Regions from separate parts of the Homo sapiens genome. Here region 1 is linked to region 2. The links come from fine-mapping of genetic effects on gene expression. Tissue or cell type: fibroblasts. Region 2 holds a variant in brackets; the other region holds the start of a gene. All regions are shown on one strand. Distances are between the middles of the regions.

Region 1 (7,738 bases), 440 kb before region 2:
AAGGCTGCATAGGTCTGTGTAGAACCTCTGGCTGTCCATGGGAGATTCTTAGCGAACTGTCACTTGGAGAAAAGAATGATTATGATTGAAGGACATAAACGAGAAAGGAAGCTATGAACAAATAATTTTGGGGCAAGTGGAGAAAATGACGGCTTGATCTAGGAGCAGTATGGTTCCCACATTTAATTAGGATTCAAGAAAGAAACGATTTACATTTATCTTTCTTTTCCAAAGCCCCCTAATCTTATATCTCATTGCAGATGAGTAGGATGAATGATGAATGTGTGATATCAGCAGAGGTTTCGTCAACTGTGGGGCACAATATAACATTATTTCGAGTTAGGCAATTTTACTTCATACCAGGAATATTACTTTATGCACTGTTTTTAATATTTGTTTGAAGAATATCCGAATACAGAATTTCTTTACCCATACTGAATTTGTGTGTGTTTACAAGGTTTTTGTGTTTCGCATCAGTGGAAATAAAAGATTGACGTTGCTACCCACTCAACCAGGCATTTTCAGACCACAAATCAGGATGAGAAAGGACTGCTAAACGCAAAGAATGCAGAAATAAAGATTACCCAGAGGTGGCGCTGTGGTAAAAGTACACCTGAATTTTGATTACAGTGAATGTATTTACTCCCTACCTCTCAGAAGAGAGACTGTTAGCCATTATCGCTTTTGTATTTCTATAAACACACATCAGCAAATAAAGCTCTCTGGTAATACACTCCCATCCACTCCAATCTACCAGGACATGTTTAAAGACCTCACTCCGCACAGAATTAGAGCTGAAGCACTAAAACCACCTCCTAAAATGTAGGCCCTGTAGCCTAGAGCTCTGTTATTCAAAGTTTTATCCATCTCACTCTCCTTCCTTCCACAAACACCACCGGGATCCTCTGGATAATCACTCAATGATAGCTGAACATGTGTCTGGTTAAATTTCTAACATTTCCTTCAGGAATTAAGATTTCGTTTTAGTGCATATTCTTCAGGAAAAATCCTGAAAAGTACCACAATTCGTTATACATCTATGCATTATGTGCTCTATCTAAGAAAATCATTTTTAAAAAGAAAAAATAAAGACCATTTGGCTTAATTCTCTCATTTGTGGATGAGAAAATTAAGGCCCAGAGACGGAAATTTACTTGCACATGACAAATCATAACTTAATTGTAGCCCACTAAGATCTTGTGTCATCTCCTTTTATTATAAATTATTTAAAAAGTGAAAATGAACCAGGGGATTCAAATGTATTATTTGTTTATGGTGTTCCTCTCCTCATCTGGTTTAATTGAGTTTTCTTGACTAACCTTCAAGCAGCATTACATCTTTTCTAAGTTGGTCCTCTTTAATCATGCCCATCTGTAGCTGTTTTCTGTGTAGGACATTTTAATTACTATTATAGTTTTAATGACTTTTTTTTAAAAAAAGTTTTTTATATGTGCACAAGGTGAATTCATCATAGCAGTGCAACTTTAAATACAAATCAATAAAATTAATTCATTTAATTTTAAGGTGCTAGAATTAAAAAATGAGTATTTGAATTGATATTTAAAATGCCCTCTACCTGACTGTATGGGCAATAATTATTCTTTCTTATGCAGCCTTATTAATTTTGATGGTTTGAAAGACAGAAATCCCCCAAATAGACACTAAAACCCTAAATGTTCAACATCTGCATTGTCTCGCCAGATTCTCCTTCAGGTTCCTTTCCTCAATCTAGCAGTACTGTGTGTAACACAATATGAAAACTTGCCCCACAAGGCTGGTTTTACTTAATGATACTTAGCAGAAGGGCTTTGCACTTTCATGATAATTTCCACCAGAAAAATCTCTCTGGAACTTACTAACAATAATCAGGCCTAATATTAGCCTCAGTCTGGAGATTTATTTAACCTATTTGGCAGAGTAGATAAAGTCGAATGCCTAGGTATTCAAGCATCTAGGCTGTGCTTCGGCCTTGGAAAAAGACTCTCAGGCTAGCACCCTAAAAGCATTCCTCAAAACTTGATTTATACTAGAAGTGACATTTCTTACTCTCTAGAGGCTGTGAGATTGCAAATCTTGCAATTACTTCCATTGCTTTTGGGGGCTGTGAGAATTTCCGCCTCTCATCCTCCACAGTGAGGAGGGTAGTCGGGAAAGGCTTTCTCCCTTAAGTTTTCGTCAACTTTGAAAATAAGGACTGTGCTCCCTACATCACCAGCAATTGACAAGGATCCAGGAAATGCCTGCTAGGCACTTTCAAACTCGGAAAAATGGGAGTATGAGGGAGGCTAAGTAGGCAGTATTTAGCTAGCAACTATTATTTCCTTTATGTTTCTACCTTGTTAACTAAGCTTCCACTACGGTTCATAAATCTCCAATATCGTGAATTAAAGAAACAACAACAAAAATCCTCTTCTGTGTGCTTGTGCGTGAGGGGATAGAAGTCCACTGCCCTAAGATGCAGGACTTATCTTCCCAAACAGGAAGAGACCCATTTCTGAGAAAGATGGTAAGTTTCCTAAGGGTCTCCTCTCAGATAGAGGGGATGGCAGTCCCCGAGGGGCGAGCGGGCGCGGGTCCTCAGGGTCCCCGTGCGCTGAGAAGGCAGGTGAGGCCCCGCCCTGCGTCTCGACTCCGGATCCCGGGTCGCGAAGGGCAGCCCAAGCGGGTCCCCGGCCCCAGGCGCCCGGGTCACTTCACCCCACCTGATTCGGGCCCTTCCCTTCTCCTCTGTCGGCCAGCTCTGCCGCCTCGCTCTCTCTCCCGCCCCCCGAGTCTCGTTTCAGTCATCCCTTTGTCCTTCCCCGGATTGGCAGGTTTTATTATTCCGCCTGAACAATCCGGCCGCCCAGTGGCTGAGGGTCGCTGACGTCGGAGGCAGAGCCGGGGAGTAGTTGGGATTTTGCTCTGTCAGTAACACATGTGTAAGAGCCGCGGAGGGAGCGAGCGAGCCGGCTAGAGGCCAGCGCCGCCGCCGCCGCCGCCTCCGAGCCGGGCAGCAACAGCCCCGGCAGCGGCGCAGGCTCCAGCGCGCCGGGCCCGGCCGGCCGCAGCCCCCGACGCCTGGGTGCGCCTGCCTGCCGGCCTCCGCACCGTCCGCCGCCGCTCCCGGGGCTGTTGTGTCTGCGACTGCTCCCGGCCGGAGGTGCAGGGAGCTCAGCCGAGCCGCCGCTGCCATCCCGGAGCGAGCAAGCGAGCGAGCGCGCGGGAGGGAGGAAGGCGGCGGCGGAGGAGGAGGAGGAGCGGGAGGAGCGCGGGCGGGGGCGGGGGCCCCCGGGCGGGGGAATATACAAAGTGAAGCCACATTGCCAAACTTGCAGCAGCGATTGCAGCAGTTGCTGCCGCTGCGCCGCGCCTGAAGCCGCGCCGCGCGGGCCGAGGGCTCCTGCAGCTGCTCGCGCGCAGTCGGAGGCGGAGAAGGACGAAGACTGAGACTGACACTTCTGCTCCCGGCCGCCCGGCACTTACGCGGGGGCCCCCCAACCCGCCCCAGAGCAACGCGATTTAAAAAAAAAAAAAAAGCCGCCCTTAGCCCCCTCCTCCCCTTTCCTGCTTCTGCGAGAACTCCCTCCCTCCCTCCAGCTCCGCCAGCCCAGGCGCCCCTTCCCTGGAAGCCGAGCGGCTTCGCTCGCATTTCACCGCCGCCGCCTCTCGCAATATTGCAATATAGGGGAAAAGCAGGTAAGGGGGCGGGTGGAGAGCCGCGGGCCGGGAGGTGGGAGAGGGAGGGAGGGGGTCGATTCGGGCCAGGGCTGTTTTCTTTGGCTTCCTTCCCCTGACCGTCCCAAATTGCAAGTAAACAATACGTCGGCTTAGATAAAGCGCGAGTCTGAAACTACCGAGGCCGGCCTGCGAGCTAGCGCGGAGGGCAGCCCCGGGCCGCCAGCTTTGTAGCGGTTCCTGCTTACAAAAGGGCTCTTCTTGGAAACGGGGCTGGTGGGGACCGTAGAGGGGGTGGGGATATTTCTAGTTCATAAGGGAAAGGCAAGGGGTGCTTAGATGAGGATTTTAAGTATGAGAAGTAGTGTGTTTGGGGGGGTGGGGGTGGGGATAGTCACGATACCCCCCCTCCCTTCTAGTAAACACTATTTTTGAAACAGTGGCAGGAAGGATCTAAGTGAGCAGGATTCGGTATTGCTGGTTCTTTTAAAAAAATTCTTCTTGGCTTATAAGTCTTTTGTTCCAATCCAGGAGAAATACGGTGAATCACCTAATTAAAATCAAGACATGAATTAAGCATCCATTTTTGTACTACAAATTGCCAGCGTTACGTTTGTCCCTCCCTTGGTCTCCATTAAAAAACACCAGAGACGTTGTTAAAGGGGGGCAGATTTTGCCTCTAGCTGCCAGTTCTGCTTTCTATTTCACTGACTATCCCAGGACCTAAATTGCTTGGCTATGTAATTACTAGAGTATAAGCCTATTTAACTTAAAAGCTTTCTTTTTTTTTTTTTTTTTTCCAACTCTAAATGAAACTTGATGAGGGCCCGTCCTTAGTTATCAGGGGAGTCAGTTTCTGGTCAGTCTTCTTGATTCATCTCTTTTAGATTTAATCAGCATTAAGGTATTGCTTGTCCTTAAGAGCTTTAGCTAATGGGGTTACTGGATGCTTTTCTCAGTGTAATGTTTCCTTTTCAAAAAAAAAATACATATATATTTACCTCTCACTAAAGATGGGGGCGGGGAAGAGCTTGGAATCTCCTCCCTCACTCTCCTTTTAAAAAGGAATTCGGAGCGATTAAAACGTTGGGGGAAACAGTTTAAAGATCTAGGGCAGGAAATGCAGATTCATTTGGGTTAGGGCTGAAATTGTAACAAAAAGCAATTCCTCGAGTAAATGCATCAGATAAATCAATTTACATAAAGGTATGATGCATTCGGATAAATGCAATGCTAATGGGTTTTAGAGTGGTCCTGTTTCCAAAGTCTCAGGGTTTTGTTACAGCTTAATTGGTGCAGTTCTTATTCTGGTTTATTGTGCGGTCACTGGACACACGTTCCGGGACTCTTTCGGAGGAAATGTGTTTAAAATCGGCCTATTTAAGGAACCCGAGTCCTTGTTTCGTTCCTTCCTCGTTTTTTTTGCAGCAGCCAAGTTGGGCCGGGTACAGGCAAAGTTCGCCTTCTTCTGAGGTATCAGCTGAATGTCTTGAGCAGATAGCCGGGAGCCTCAGGGGGAGCCCACACTCTCAGCTTACAGAGGACAAAGACAATACAGGCTGCTTAATTGGCAGTAAATAACTTGATCTTTTTACAGAATAAGTGACTAGAGGAACACTAGGACTTTATTGGACTCGGGATTGAAGGCAACAAATTAATCGGTTTAGGCTAAGCTTTATAAATTGATTCCTATATTATATCCCAGTTGCATCTCTTGTGGCATTCATTAGAGTGGGGAATTCTTTTTTAAAGCAGTTTTTGGTGACAGCAGGACGGGCTCGAATTTAACTTGTGCATCCCTTAATGGTGCCTTCTCGCACATTATCTGTAACGCCGCCCGCCCCCCCCCCCCCCCCGCCCTTTGGAGGAACAAAGCTTTAGCATTTAAATTGCTGATCAAGGGCAGATTAGTGAGACCAAAGTGGAGAGTGTTTGTATAGGAAGTTAACAGGCATCCTAAAGTTCAATGATCTATTATTCTTGCCTGTGTCCTGAAAACCCAGAGAAAACACTCATTGATCTTCAAAATGAAATGAGATTTGGAACAATAATGGGAGATGGCGGTCACCACAATGGCATGTGAAAGGTGCTGCTTAAAATACGAAAAACCAGTTTCGCAACTTTACACACTGCACCCACCCCTCCCGTCACCTTGCCTTCCCTCCCATCACCACGCTCTCCGTCTCCCGTCTGCCGGTCCCTCCCTCGTTCCCTTTCGGAAAACCGAACTATTTCCAACTTGTGAACTGCAGCTGCACTTCCCGGGGCAGAACCCGGGAGGGAACGAGGCTCCGGCGGGGCCGCCGCCTCCCCACTCCTCTCGGCTCTGTCCCGGGGCCCGGCGGGGGCTGGGGAGGGGCCGGGCGCGGCGGTGGGTGGGTTTGACCCTCATTTGCTGGAGGCGGGCGGCGGAGGAGGGGAGGAGGGGGCAGTGGGCGGAGGCGGGGGCTGGGAGGAGGTGCCGCGAGGGGTGGAGCGCGCAGCGGAGCCTGCTCTCGGAGTTTTGACAGTACCGGAGCTGAAATTGTCAGCGGCGGCAAGCGCAGGAAAGTTGAGAGGAGCTCGTGGCCCCAGAACAAAGCTTGAGAAAAGTAAACAGGCGGCTGCTGCCGGCGAGCCTCCCTTCTTCCCTCTCCCCCTCAGCCTCCTTCCCGCCCTTGCCCTGCTGTTTCCTTCCAGCAGCTCCGCGGGGAGGAGGGGAATGGGCTTGCTCTCTCTCCGGCGATTACTAACTTTTGCATCGCCCCTGTTTTGTCTTTCTCTCCCTGTCCCCTTCCCGCCCTCTGCAGACCATGGTGAATCCGGGCAGCAGCTCGCAGCCGCCCCCGGTGACGGCCGGCTCCCTCTCCTGGAAGCGGTGCGCAGGCTGCGGGGGCAAGATTGCGGACCGCTTTCTGCTCTATGCCATGGACAGCTATTGGCACAGCCGGTGCCTCAAGTGCTCCTGCTGCCAGGCGCAGCTGGGCGACATCGGCACGTCCTGTTACACCAAAAGTGGCATGATCCTTTGCAGAAATGACTACATTAGGTAAGACTTTGCTGTCTTTCCTGGAGATGGGGGGAAGAGCAATGGCAAGGCCAAAGGTTAACAGGGTTGTGAGGAAAGGAGTAGGCGTCTACGGGGAGTATGCAGCCTTCACCTCAAAAATCTTCTAGTTGGCGGAATTTAAGGGGTTCAGGAAGCATGTGTTAGTCTTCCAATATCTGATGGCAAATTCATGGCAAATGCCATACTAAGTAAAGACCATCTGGTGGGACTGGGTCATTAGATGTGCAAAGGTTGAGCACCCTCTGGTCCTAGAGTTTAAGTAAGTGGTCAGCCTCTACTGGACTTCAGGCTAAAAGCAAACATCCCAAGCGGGAGTTAAGCTGCGTTCTTAAAACAAGGTAGGAACTCACAGAGGAACCCAGAAACAAAGGTTGACTTAAAAATACAAGTGTAGTTAGTGAGAAATGATTTGTCTATGGCGATGGCTTATTAACGATATTTACATAAGCATCTTGAAACTTTTTTGAGCGGAAGGCTGTGATTCGTTCTTTGTGCTCCTTGAGAAAAATGCTAATTATCCATCAGTTTAAAGACTTGTAATTCTTCTTATAGAGAAAAAAAAAGTCCCAAGAAATAAAACCTGGTGGTAATGTTTCTCTTCATACTGTTACTCGGAGGCTTGCAATAATTCAGTTAGTGTGTGGTTTGCGATGTAGAATTTGCAGTTTTTTTCAATTGAAGCATGTTCAGGTTTTGGGTTTTTTGTTGTCGTTTGTATCACTGCCCTTGATCCCCAAAAGAGATTTAGAAAAAGGCTATAGAATTATACTAATCTTGCATTTTAAAGCAATGTATAGGAACATTCATATGTCCATGTAAGCAGTCTTTTCCAACAAGTTGCAGTGCAATTAATGGAAAGAATTCAGGAGGTCAGGTGCCTATAGGATCTTTTCAGGTGAACTCAAGCTACTTAAACTCATTAATTTGAAAGGAGGCATTTGAAGGATTACACATTTAATTTGAGTAAATGGTTTGATAGACTGATGCACATGAATGCTTCTAGGAGGTGTTCTGTTTCAACATCCAGTAATT
Region 2 (7,738 bases):
ATATATTTACAATATTAATTGTTTGAGTTCTCATGACTTTGAGCCCACAGTCTGCCATTAGTGTTATTCGTGTAGATGACTGGTTGCCACAGAAAACCATAAGCTCTCAGAAGTCCTCTTTATTAAAATCTCCACAGTTTTTAGACTTCAACCACAGAACAGCAATTAATAATGTGTGATAAATGAATAAATTAACGTAGATAACTTTTTTCTCCCAAGGGCTATCAGATTAATCTAAGACTTTCCTTAATGGCATTTAGTTTCTATATATCAAACTGAAGTTTTAAAAATGAATAGTAGATAAAAAAGCTGTAGCCAAAATGGAGAAGTCTGGTATAACTAAAAGCACCATTCCAAATATGAGGCAATTTTAAGCTATATCAAGACTGACTGCTAATTTATTTTTTAGTTATGTTTCTATCAAAAAATGGAATCTGGGCCGGGCATGGTGGCTCACGCCTGTAATCCCAGCACTTTGGGAGGCTGAGGCGGGTGGATGATAAGGTCAGGAGATCGAGACCATCCTGGCTAATGCGGTGAAACCCCGTCTCTACTAAAAATACAAAAAAATTAGCTGGGCATGGTGGCAGGTACCTGTAGTCCCAGCTACTCAGGAGGCTGAGGCAGGAGAATGGCATGAACCTGGGAGGCGAAGCTTGCAGTGAGCAGAGATCGCGCCACTGGACTCCAGCCTGGGCAATAGAGTGAGACTCCGTCTCAATAAAAAAATAAAAATAAAAAGTAACCTGAAGGCTAGGCTTGGTGGCTCATGCCTATAATCCCAGTACTTTGGGAGGCTGAGACAACAGGATCTCTCAAGGCCAGGAATTTAAAACCAGCCTGGGCAACATGGCAAGATGTTTTCTCTACAAAAAATATGGAAATTAGCCAGGTGTGGTGTTATGTGTCTATGGTACCAGCAACTCAGAAGGCTGAAGTGGGAGAATCACTTGATCCCCAGAGGTCAAGGCTGCAATGAGCTGTGATTGCCACTGTACTCCAGTCTGGCCGACAAAGCAAGACCTTCTCTCAAAAAAAAAAAAAAAAAAAAAAAAAAAAAAAAAAAAAAAAAAAAAGAACCTGAATGTTCCCAAGTGAGAGAATTGTTAAATGAACTAAGATGTGCTCATATAATTAAATATATCATACCAATTAAAATCTTTCTTCTGAGGAATTTTTAATGACTTGGGGAAAAGTTTATGTTATGTCTTGTGGGGGAAAAAGCAGAATGTGAAATTGAATATATAGCTCTATTGCAATTTTGTAATAAAGGAGGAGGAGAAAAAGAAGGAGAAGGGGGGAAAACACATATAATTGCAATCTCTATGTGGGAACATTTGGGGGTGAGTTTTATTCTTTATATATTTCTGCAGTTCCTAAAATGTCTGTAATAAGCATATAATAGTTTTATAATTGAAGAGTTACAAAACTATGAGTAAGAGGGTGGATCTGAATGAAAAAGAAAGCAAAAGAAGAAAAATCTACTTTTCAGTAGGGGAACTCCAAAGGAACCAAGACAGCAAATGTAGCAAATGTCAAGACCATAGCAATAAAGATGCTCCAAATGCATTGAAAAACTGAAAAACTTTTTAGCTTTTTCTCTCCCAGTTACTACCAAACATCCTCTAGTTCAAGAGGCACATTTTAGCATTCACAGGAAAACATTCTGAAATTGAACGGCCTACATTTCCTTTTCTTGTTTTCATCCAAAATCTATTAGTAAACTTTACAATAGCTTCTTGTAAGAGTTGATATTTTATAAATCTGAATTGTCAAATATAATTCTCAATTCTCTCTTTGCTCCTCTTCCTTCCTTTCTTCCTCCCTCCCCTCCCTCTCCCCTTTCCTCCCTTCTTTCCTTCCTTCCTTCTTTCTTTCTTTCCTTCCTTTGTTCTTTGAAACATGATTAAATGCCTACTGTGCACCAGTTACCATGCATGGGTCAAGTGGTATAGTGTGAATGTGACAAGTCCTATTTCTCAAAGAGCTAACAGTCCGGTGAGGAGCAGATGGTGTTAGGAAGAAAGGATGTTTTAATAAAGTGTGAGAACACTGCTATAGGGTAGATGACACAGGAAGCTGTAGAGGCATGTAGGAAGACATCAAACCCAGAGAAGGCTTCCCAGAATGACCCTGCAGCAGAGACCTGAAAGATGAATGGGAATTTGTGAGGTGAGAGGCAGCAAAGTGGAGAGTGTCCCAACAAGAGTAAAATATATATTCAGAGGCCTAGTGTGGGAGTAGACGGATGCATAGGAAGGTGGAGAGAGGGAAAGAGACAGAAACAGAGGGAAAGAAAGAGACAGCAGAGAGACAGGGAAAAAACAAAGAAAGCCAGAGAAGAGAGTGAGAAAGTTGGGAGAGGCACAAAGAGAGATGGACAGGGTGACAGAGAGAGACACAGAGAAGCAGACCGCAAGAGCAAGTCTGGGTGAACAGAAAGCAGTTCAGCCTAACCTGGGTACAGATTTTAAGCTGAAGAATGTCAAGGGCTGGGGCTGGCAAGGGAAGCAAAGACCAGAGTATGTCAATGGCTTTAGGCCTTGTGTGCTGTGTTAAGGATTTTGAGCTGAATCCTGCTGGATTGAGGTATAGGGTGAGAGTTTTAAGTATGGCGTGGTTTGGTTTCAGAAGGATCACACTGAATCCTGTGTGGAGAATGAATTACTTTTATGTCCCTAATCATCATGCACCTTTTTCAATTTGTCCTTTTTATTCAGACCCTGGGGATCCTACTTGGTCTTCCAGGCTCCCCTAATCTTCATTCTTCTAGTTAGTTAGATTTATTCACTTCTCTCAGATCTTTGCCTGTACTTGAAATGTGGCACAGCTCTATTTTGCTTGTGTCTGCCCTGGGAACAGTGTGGACTTGGCTCAGGCAGAACAGACTGCCTCTCTGTTCTACCACTTACTTACCATGTGGCATTGGACTAATTTTTAACACTCATAAAATCTCGGTTTTCTCGTCAGAATCAGTACCAATCTCATATAGTTTTTGTGAGGATTGGTTGGAGAGCTCTATATAAAATGCTTGGCCTGCGCTGGGTGCTCAGTGCTCATGACCCCTTCCTCCCGTGATTAATTCATCTCCATGGCATCCAGTGAAAGGGCTGCACAAAATAATTACCAAAGGAATGGTTGCTAAGTGAATGAAGACAATGTTTAATGGACTAAAATCTTCCAAGTCAGATATTTTTCCTTTGTTACTTTTGGACACATGTTTATCTGATTTTATTGAAATTCTTCTTAATAGTGGATGCCGTGATGCCCCTCACAGACCCTCCTTCAGGACTGCTGCTGTGAGTTGCCAGCACTGCCAGCAGACAGCCCTCAGCTACAGCCCTCTACTGCAAGTGGCTGGGCTGCCAAGATTCACTGCACCCTGGTCATGCCCATTTCCAGTCCTTGTAGAGAAGAAAGGGTGGTTCCTTCACCCAACTCTGCATACTTCCTTCCCTTCACTTCCAGAGCACTGATCGCCTGTAAACTGTGCACTTGTCCTTGTCTCAGAGGGCAATCTCTGGGAAAATATGTCTGATACCTCTGAAGTCGAATTTTCAAAATCCACCTTTTTCTTTATAAAGATGCCTTTAACATGCCTTAGAATGAC[A/G]TGAGTATTTATAAGTGACTGGCTATGTTTATTAAGCTTCCTGTAATGCAGGAAACATGACTATGAATGTTTCATGGTGTGCTCTTGTGAAACAGCAATTTTTCAGTGAATCCCCCTACTTCCCAGCTCCCCAGGGACAAATAAAACTTTCCTAGTCAGTGTTGGATGTAGGCAGATTCCAAGGGAACAGTTTTTCCCTATAATTTAAAATAGTAGAATTTATAATATGAAATTAAAAACAACATAAATTAGTAATTCAATCCCAGCATTCCAACTTAATGAACTAGAAGTTTTATTGCATTACTGTTTTGTTCCACTGGACCAATTTTTTGGTGTATGAATAGAAAGTTCTTCTTTATTAATAAGTATATAAAAAAGTTAAAGGTGCCTCTCTGCAATTATGTTGATGTCTCCTAGGAGCGCAAATTCAATAATTTAAAATATTATTTTCTTAGCATATTAACAGCCACAGTAGATAAGAGGGTAAAATTTGTGTCTCTTTAGTTTAAACTCCTTTTAAGTGCAGTGTAGCAAAGCAGTTGTTCCCCAGTGGCACATGAGAAGCACTTACCAGGAAAATTGTTATTGAATTAAGCTGCATAAAGTGTAAATAAAGGACATTTTTGACATCCAAAGAGTGACCAATGGTCAGGGATGTGTAACACCTTCATAAGATTCAAGTTGAATACAAGGTTTCTTGTCTTCCGGAAACAAAAGTGACGTGGGATTTTAGTTCTAGTTCATTTATTGCTATTTCATAATACTTTATCCACTATAATTTGGAACATACGACAGATGCAAAAATCTTATTACAGATATTTAAAAACTGTGTCAGTCTAGAAATTTCTCTAAATGCTCTCATCTCTAGACATCATGGTCCTTTAAGAGATCGTATTTGCCCCCAACGAATGTAGGTCCATGCTTGGAATGCCACTGCCATGTGCAAGATTGGCATTTTCTAACTGATTTCCTCAGGCTGCTTCTACTTGAACAGCCACGCCTTTTGTAGTCTATGGCCTTCCTGTTTGCTCACATCAGCTCTTGTTTATGCTCTGGCTTTTCTCCATTCTGTCTCCTTCAGCAAATCCTCTGTATCTTCAGCCTACTTTCAGATGGGCAGTAAGGTCTGTGAGGGCAAGGATCCTGTCTGTCTTGTTCCCAGCTATACTCCCCAGCACCCAGCCCAGTTTCTGATCTTGAGTAAGTGCAGCATACCTATCTACTGACTGACTGGATGAATGGGTGAATATCATACAATATCATAGCCAGATATGGGTGAATATCTGGCTTCCACTTTTGTTTCCTCTCTCTCTTAGCACTGTATATATGCAGATAAATAAATTTACAACAGATTCTTTTTAATCTTTTAATCCCTGGACCTTTCCACATCTACTACCCTTTAAACAGCTTTGTCATGATGAAGAATGAATATTTTATTGTTTGATGAACTTTATGGACTTTCAATATTCAAATATAATAAAAATGTTTAAGAAAAAAAATGAGAGGCCGGGCACGGTGGCTCATGCCTCTAATCCCAGCATTTTGGAAGGCCGAGGCGGGCGGATCATGAGGTCAGGAGATCGAGACCATCCTGGCTAACACGGTGAAACCCCGTCTCTACTAAAAAAATACAAAAAATTAGCCGGGTGTGGTGGTGGGCACCTGTAGTCCCAGCTACGCGGGAGGCTGAGGCAGGAGAATGGCATGAGCCCGGGAGGCGGAGCTTGCAGTGAGTGGCGATCGCACCACTGCATTCCAGCCTGGGCGACAGAGCGAGACTCCGCCTCAAAAAAAAAAAAAACACACACACACAGAAAAGAAAAAAATAAGAAAGAACTTTCAGGTTTAGTAGTGTGAAAAACTAGATATCCTAAACAATTATCCCAACATAAAAATTATATATTAAAAATATGTTAAATTTTAAAAACATTTAACCGAGTTGTCAAGAAGGTAGATAAATTTTTCAAGAACCAAAAATTAGTGAAAGCAGGAATTTAGAGTAGAAAGGTTTCTGAAGCCCCAAAACAAACAAAACCAAGAGAAGTGAGAAGCAATTGCTACTCCTTGGGGATCTAAAGTTCAGTTTTGGTGAATTTGAGGGATAAAGATAGTACGCAAATCTTAGAGACCTAACTTGGAGATTCTGACAGGAGCACCTCACATAAAGCCAAGACCACATGGGTCGTCATCCACAGGGGATATGTGAGTTAGGAGAAAGCTTGTCTTACAGGGGAATAGAGAAATTTACATTTAAGTGGAAAGAAAAATTCTCTCCTGTTAATTCATAAGCCAGCCCTCACTCAAATTTGTAGCCCTTACCTATTTACACTTTCATTTTGGCCAAAACTAATTCAAATCTATAAATTATTTAAAATATATCCTGATTTGAAAGTTTTAAACTGAAAGTAATAAATATCCTGTATAGATTAAAGCCCCTTGAAAGTAGGTCTCAAAGCATTTCCCCAGATGAAGTTCTATCAAACATAGAATTGGAAAAAATAGTACAAAATAAAATAGATTAATTATTCTGAGTGTACTGGTAACTACAAAACATTGAAATGAAGTAAACACTTCATTTAAAAGATAAACAGTGGGGGAAAAAGATGAATATTGGATGATAGAATATTTTTTAAAAATCCACGTATATGTTATTTATAAGAAAAATGTCTAAAATATATGACTAAGAAATGCTTGAAATTAAAAGAAACAACATAGAAATCAATAAAAAGGTTAGTATATGGTAATGATAAAATAATTCAAAATATATGTTAATATTAAAACTATTACTGGAAATTTAAAAAATCATTATATAATGTTAAAAGATTTAATGTACCTTAAAAATATAAAGTTCTGGATGTGTTAATTTCTATTAATACAGCCTAACGTGTATATATACATATATATATATATATATATATATTAGAACAAGAAGAACCTGATAAATCGGCTTTCATTGGGGGTATTCTAACACAATTCTTTCAGCAATTGCTAGATCAAGTAGACAAAAAAGAATAAGAATATAGATTTGAAAGCCATACTTAGCAAACTTTATCTAAAAGACTTCTATAAAACATGGTATCTAATTATTGAATATGAAAGTCAACCACCCACTAGACCATAAAGCAAGTTTCAAAAAAATTCAACTATTTATAGATGAATAACGAGTCAAGGAAACCATTATAATAGAGATTATAAAATACTTAGTACAGAAAAATAATTAAATTACTAAATGTAATAGATGTTTAAAACTTGAGAAATGCAGCTAATGTGGTCTTTAGAGGAAAAATTATAGCCTTAAATGTTAACACTAGAAAAATAGGAAAGTTCAAAATTAATGAGCTTTATCTAAATTGTAGAGTTAGAAAAAAAGTACAAGATAAACCTTAAGAAAATAAAATGAAGGAAATAAGAGGGATAAAAGCAAAGATTAATGAAATAGAGAACAAATACAGAGAAGAGAAAAATCAGTAAAACCTAAGGTTGGTTGTTCAAAAGATGACAAAATTCATAAAACTCAGACTAGACTAACCAGATACTAGTAAAACTTTTCAATATGAGGAAGTAAAGGAGGTCATTACAACAACAGCTATAGAAATTTAGAAGAATAATATCAACCTCTTTGTGGCAATAAATTTGAAAACATTGTTGAAAGGAATAAATTCCTAGAAAAAGCACAACCAAACAGGCTAAGAGGAAAAAAATAAAGAGGGTACATATTAACCGTTAAAAAATATTAAAACAGAGGTTAAAAATTCCCCATCAAGAGAATACAAAGATCAGGTCGTTTTACAGAATTGTTATACTGAATATTCAAGGAACACATAATTTTTACACATAAAATATGTCAGAGAACAGAAGAGGAAAGAACATGCCTCAAGTCACATTATGTGATTAGTGTATACTGAAAACCAGCACTAGATGACGACTGGATGAGATGGGCAAATCACAAGTCAGTCTTATATGTAAAAATCAACGCAAAATCTCAAACAAAACAAAATAAAACAAAAAAATGGAATCCTGCCATGTATAAAAAGGAAAACAGATCAAATCCCATGTAGGCTTATCACAAAAACTCAAGTGTGGTTTACAATTAGAAATTTTATTAACACAAACTTTATCATATTTAGC

Direction of the effects. Positions count from the first base shown, and alleles are read on the strand shown. Sizes are in standard deviations (SD) of each study's normalised expression.
For the expression in fibroblasts of the gene that starts at base 3,314 in region 1, allele A in region 2 goes with a lower level than allele G (small effect, 0.32 SD a copy in GTEx).

Evidence for each region. PIP is the estimated chance that this variant, and not a neighbour inherited with it, causes the effect.
Region 1: LMO4 starts here. The variant in region 2 is fine-mapped to the expression of LMO4 in fibroblasts (GTEx, PIP 0.93).

What each region holds. Positions count from the first base shown.
Region 1 is chr1:87,325,567-87,333,304 of GRCh38, forward strand. LMO4 (LIM domain only 4) reads left to right here and starts at 3,314. Exons shown (of 5, transcript NM_006769.4): 1 at 3,314-3,678; 2 at 6,447-6,685. The coding sequence starts at 6,450. RefSeq lists silencers at 497-546, 2,516-2,685, 2,936-3,365, 4,289-4,378, 5,745-6,104 and enhancers at 3,224-3,801, 3,802-4,377, 3,943-5,488, 5,158-5,796, 5,797-6,435 and 1 more.
Region 2 is chr1:87,762,191-87,769,928 of GRCh38, forward strand. No RefSeq gene overlaps it. Among named protein-coding and RNA genes, the nearest start is that of LINC01773, 140 kb to the right of the region's middle. The variant A/G (reference allele first, on the strand shown) is at 3,611.